Regions from separate parts of the Homo sapiens genome. Here region 1 is linked to region 2. A link means that fine-mapping ties the variant in region 2 to the expression of a gene that starts in the linked region. Tissue or cell type: liver. Region 2 holds a variant in brackets; the other region holds the start of a gene. All regions are shown on one strand. Distances are from middle to middle.

What was found. PIP is the estimated chance that this variant, and not a neighbour inherited with it, causes the effect.
Region 1: LECT2 starts here. The variant in region 2 is fine-mapped to the expression of LECT2 in liver (GTEx, PIP above 0.99). The same link has a PIP of 0.9 or more in caudate.

What each region holds. Positions count from the first base shown.
Region 1 is chr5:135,953,320-135,956,007 of GRCh38, reverse strand. It overlaps LECT2 (leukocyte cell derived chemotaxin 2), which reads left to right and starts at 1,025. Exons shown (of 4, transcript NM_002302.3): 1 at 1,025-1,220. The coding sequence starts at 1,175.
Region 2 is chr5:135,976,393-135,979,080 of GRCh38, reverse strand. No RefSeq gene overlaps it. Among named protein-coding and RNA genes, the nearest start is that of LECT2, 23 kb to the right of the region's middle. The variant A/T (reference allele first, on the strand shown) is at 1,137.

The DNA.
Region 1 (2,688 bases), 23 kb after region 2:
TATATAATTCTAAAAATAGCTTTTTAATTCAACAGTATATCTAGAGATCTAGCTGTGTTAATACATGTAGATTGTCTTCATTTAAATTGTTATATTTTACTCTGTTGTATGACTGTATTATTCTGTTCTTGCATTGCTATAAAGAAATACCTGAGATTGGGTAATTTATAAAGAAAAGAGGTACAGAAAGCATGGTAGCTTCTTGGGACGTCTCAGGAAACTGAAAATCATGGCGGAAGGCAAAGGGCAAGCAGGCATGTCTTACACGGCTGAAGCAGGAGGAAGTGAGAACAGGGGAGGTGCTACACACTTTTAAACAACCGGATCTCACCATAACTCACTCACTCACTATCAGGACAACAGCACTAAGGGGATGATGCCAACCCATTCATGAGCACTCTAGCCCCATAATTCAATCACCTCTCACCAGGCCCCACCTCCAACACTGGGGATTACAATTGAACATGAGATTTGGGTGGGGACACAGATCCAAACCATATCAATGACTATATTATAATTAATCTTTTTTCCTTTATTGATGGATGCTTTTAATGGTGTTAACTTACCATTATCATAAACAAGAAAACATTTAAAAATCACATATTTAAGGTGAATACATGCAATTTTATTAAAATATTAAAGTTATTTGCAAATATTACACAGGTGAAATATAATTAAACTGAGAATTCAAAAACACCTAAGGGATATATTAAGGAATATGTTATGAAGGGCTACACATTATTAATGACCAATTTTCTTCTGAAATATGTGCTATCAAGGAAATAAAAGAAAGATCTACCAGCAGGCAGCACTAAATATTCCATCATTCGCACGAACATTCTCCTACAAGCCACAGCCCAGAAGACTGTCGATATGCACCTAGCCTTATCATTTTCTGTTAATATTTAGTCAGTATTTCCAATATAATTGGCTTCTTCTTCAGATCAAAGGCTTTTACATAGGCCCTACCTGCAAATCAAATAGCTATCCATGGAATATTAGAACTTGACTTGCTCCATCCTCTTAAACTTTTTGTGTCTCACACTAAAGAAATGAGAGATGCAGAATTCTAAGGCTAAATAGCTAGGAAGTATTCATTCAAACTTGAATATTCTTCAAAGAGAGTGTGGGGGCAACTCTAATCAGAGGAAGAAACTAAAGGAAGTAAAACCAGATGTTTTCCACCAAAGCCCTCCTTTTGGCTGGTCTGATTTCTACCGGTAAGTCGAAAGTGCAATTTTAGAATATTGATTAACTTTTAAAAACTGATTTCAGGGGAAGACTAAAAAGATTAAAAAGTCATTAATAGCATGATCACAACAAAGACTTGTGTATTTGGCTATTAAAAATGAAATAGGAATGACACATGGTCCTGAGGATGTTTTAAGTAATTTAAATGGAATGTTCCGGTTCTTTAATGAGGGAAACATAATAGTGGGTTGAGAAGACATTACAAAGCCTTTCAGTCTGAGTCTGGGTCTGGGACTTAACTAGAACAAAACTAGATAATAAAAAGTTGATATAAATATTTGATTCTGATTTTGATCAAAATCAAATTCTGATACAGATACTAATACAGAGACTGGTATGGATTAAGACAAAGGGATGGCTCCCTTAATACTCACCGAAGGAGGAAAAAGTGAATAAATTACTACACTGTCTGATATTTGCCTCAATTCCCAAGGATAAATATTAGTTGCCAAAGTGATGGGATTATATCTTGATCAAGGTGTTGATTTGGAGCTTGGCTCCAAGGCATAAAACTTTTGAAACCCACCTTTTAAAAGTATTTTAAAGAAGAGGCTTAATGGCCATATTCTGTAGGTTCTCTTCACAGGATAGGTATTAATGAAGAGTAAAATGTCTTTAAATAAAATCAATAGTCAAATTACCAGGCTCTCGCTTTTGCTTGTTTGTTTCAAAGTGCAAGGTTGAGTGTGCTCACTGTATCTCTCTGTGAATGTTAACACTGGAAATCCAGGACATTTAATTCCATTGAACATTTATTAAGTGCTTACTATAGTAAAGAAACAAATTGTGCCTGAAACAAAGTTTGCACCAAGTCTGCTGAGAAAGCAGCCCCTCCTCCACGTTTCATAATTTTTCATATAATTGGTTCTACTCCTTCTCCTACCTTCACCCCTAATCTCAGTCTAGGCTAAATTGGTTTGACATTTCAGATTATTTTTAAGAATCTCCCTCTTCCATGTTGGCAACTATGAGAGATTTATCTAGTGTTAAACAAACTTGGCTAGTACAGAGTTCGTTTCTCCTTTAATTCAAACATTTGCTTGGATTTGATTAGTGGAACTAACCATTTCAAAATTACAATTTCTAAAATTATTTTCTGAGCCATGCTATTTTATTATTTTTGCTTAATCTAAAAATAATGATCCCCATGGCAGATAATGAGCAAAGAAAAATAGAAAAGCACAACTTATACCATTTACTAATGGATCTGAAGCAAAGTATAATGATGGAGGCCAATGCTTATAAAGAAACACATTCAGCTGGGCGCAGTGGCTCACGCCTGTAATCCCTGCACTTTGGGAGGCTGAGGCAGGCAGATCACGAGGTCAAGAGATCAAGACCGTCCTGACCAACATGGTGAAACTCCGTCTCTACTAAAAATACAAAAATTAGCTGGGTGTGGTGGTGCGCACCTGTAGTCCCAGCTACTCAGGCGGC
Region 2 (2,688 bases):
TCCTGCCTCAGCCTCCAGAGTAGCTGGGATTACAGGTACCCGCCACCACACCCAGATAATTTTTGTATTTTTAATAGAGATGAGGTTTCACCATGTTGGCCAGGCTGGTCTCGAACTCCTGGCCTCAAGTGATCCACCCACCTCAGCGTCCCAAAATGCTGGGATTACAGGTGTGAGCCACTGCGCCTGGCCCACACTTTAAAATTTGGAGGCAAAGAGAGTCATCACGAGAAAATAATCTGTTTTTGAAGAATATCATAGACTTTTTTTTTTACAAATAATTTGTAAAATATTTTGGTTTATGCATTCATCTCACAAAAACATTATTTGTATAGAGGTGATTACGATGCAGTTACTAACACATCTATAGCTGCATACACTTTTAATAGTACATTTACATAATAGATGTGAAATAGAACATTTAGCTGGCTCCTATGAATATCAACATGAAGACAACTAGTGCGTAAGACTGATAAAAAAAACAAAAGCTAACATTCCTGAGGTACTTCCTATCAGGCAGGTTCTGTGCTAAGTGGTTTATATGCTTTATCTCACCCAATGGGAGATTCTACTATGGTCTCCAATTTCAGCAGAGGAAAGGGAGGTGTGGGAAGGGGATGTTACTTGCCCAAATCCTTGTGGCTCTTGAGAAGTGGAGCTGGGACTTGAGTCCAGGTCTGCTGGCTCCAGATCCTGTCTCTGTAGCACCAGATGGCACGGCCTCGGATTAAGTGAGACATACATGCTATGAGAGCTTCGTCCACTGCTTGACCCATACTGAGCAGCCAATAAAGGCTTACACAAAAGCAGACTAAGGCAGGCTGCAATCCACACCCCATCCACAGCACTGAAGGCTCCCAGAGCACAGTTAAGGTAATGAAAGGTGCTGGGAACCTCTGGTTGAGGGTCCCTTTTTGGTGCTACCTCTGCCTGTCAGTTATCTACGAGTTTCAACCCTGCCTAAGTCACTGAGGGGCTGGATGGCTACGGGACCAATCCCTTCTTTCTGGACTGGACTTTCTTCTGTAAAAGAAGAGGATTTGACTAGAACGATTCCTAAGCTTTCTCCCCGCTCTGAACTTCTACCACCCAAGTCATCTCTAAGCTTTTGCGTGTGAAAATTAGTCCAGAAGCCC[A/T]GGGAGGCCCGTACCCGCCCTGAACATGTAGGAAGGGATTAACCATCCTAATAAAAAAGACAGCAGTGCTCTATGAAGATCAGCATTTTCCACCAAGGATGAACTTTGTTTCAATGGCAACAGGCCATGGTGGCAAAACTGCAAACTTCTAGTGTGGGCATGACTCAAAACCAGAGGGCCAGGGCAGACCTTTAGAATAGCTGATGGAATCGAATTATTCCACCGACTTTCACAATCCTGGCCATTTCAGCCCCACATGCGTCAGTCAGGATTGGAAATTGACGCAGGCTGTGGGGCTCTGGAGTGCTGAGGCAGAAGCGCCGAAGTCCGCTCAGCGGCGCCCACTAGCGGAAGGCCACAGAGCGGCGGTGCAACGGGACGGCTCAGGGCTCCAACTGCTCTGCACTGTGAAGCTGCAAGTCCTCCCTTGCATCATCGCACAGGGAAACGGAGGGAGAAAGGCCACCAGCTCCTTAGAGGCAGAGTTGACCTCTTGGCGGCCATTATGGTCCATGAAGAAATTCCCTCTGTACAATACACTAATTTTTCTTCATCATAACCTAACACATAGTATTTATTTATTGCAAGATGCTGGTCACCGTATTAAAAGATAATACAAATTTATTCAATTTTTTAATCCAAGAAAATGTAAAACATCTGAAGAAAATCTTGGTTCTTTTGATTCTGTCATAGTTTAATAACTGTGCAAATGAATGCTTGGGATCCCTGCTCCCATGAATATTTTATTAGGGGCAAATGGTTTATAGAGATAATATTGGAAATAAGAATTATTTGACAGATATTTTAAACATTTCATGGGTGACTGGGACGCATATTGCAAATTCTCAAACATCAAAAATCTGACAAAGTTCACCAAATAGTCTCAAAATAAGTTTATGGTAGTAATGTCATTTATTTACTGGATAACTAACCAACACTTAAAAAAGTTAAGCATGTTTGGGTTAAAGTAGCGTTTGACCATGTTAGGGAAGCCCAGTTCTTATCCTTAGAGAGGTTGCATTCTCACAGGTAAATGAGATCTATACAAAGGATACAACATAAGACTATAATTCTGAAATAATTTAAGTGTCCTAGAAAAATGTTCTGAAGGAGTTCAGAGAAGGAGTGCAGAAAATCTAAAAACAAGTAGGAGAACCTCATGGAGTGAGTAGGACTTGAGTTGAAACTTAAAGGATGGGAAGGGCATTTAAGTAGAAGGGAAGGAAGAGAAGAGCGTGTTCGGGGTAGTCAAAACTCATAAGGACGTATGGTGATGATTGGTACAGGAAGGTGTTTCAGGAAAGAAAGTGGGTATTCAGAGCCCTCCTGCCATGGCTTACCTCATTTATGGCTTTAGCCTCTAAAACTTCTCCCTTGTTGTCAGTTGGCTTCTTTCTTGCCTTTTATTTATTTATTTGCCTCTTTTCTAGTCTAGAACTCATGGTCAAGCTTGCTGAACATGTGCTTTAGCGACCTTGCTACCTCCTTGTGCTGTGGCTCCTGGGCAGCCAAACACTAGAGGAGAGGGCGCTGGGAAGCCAGGCTGTGTGGC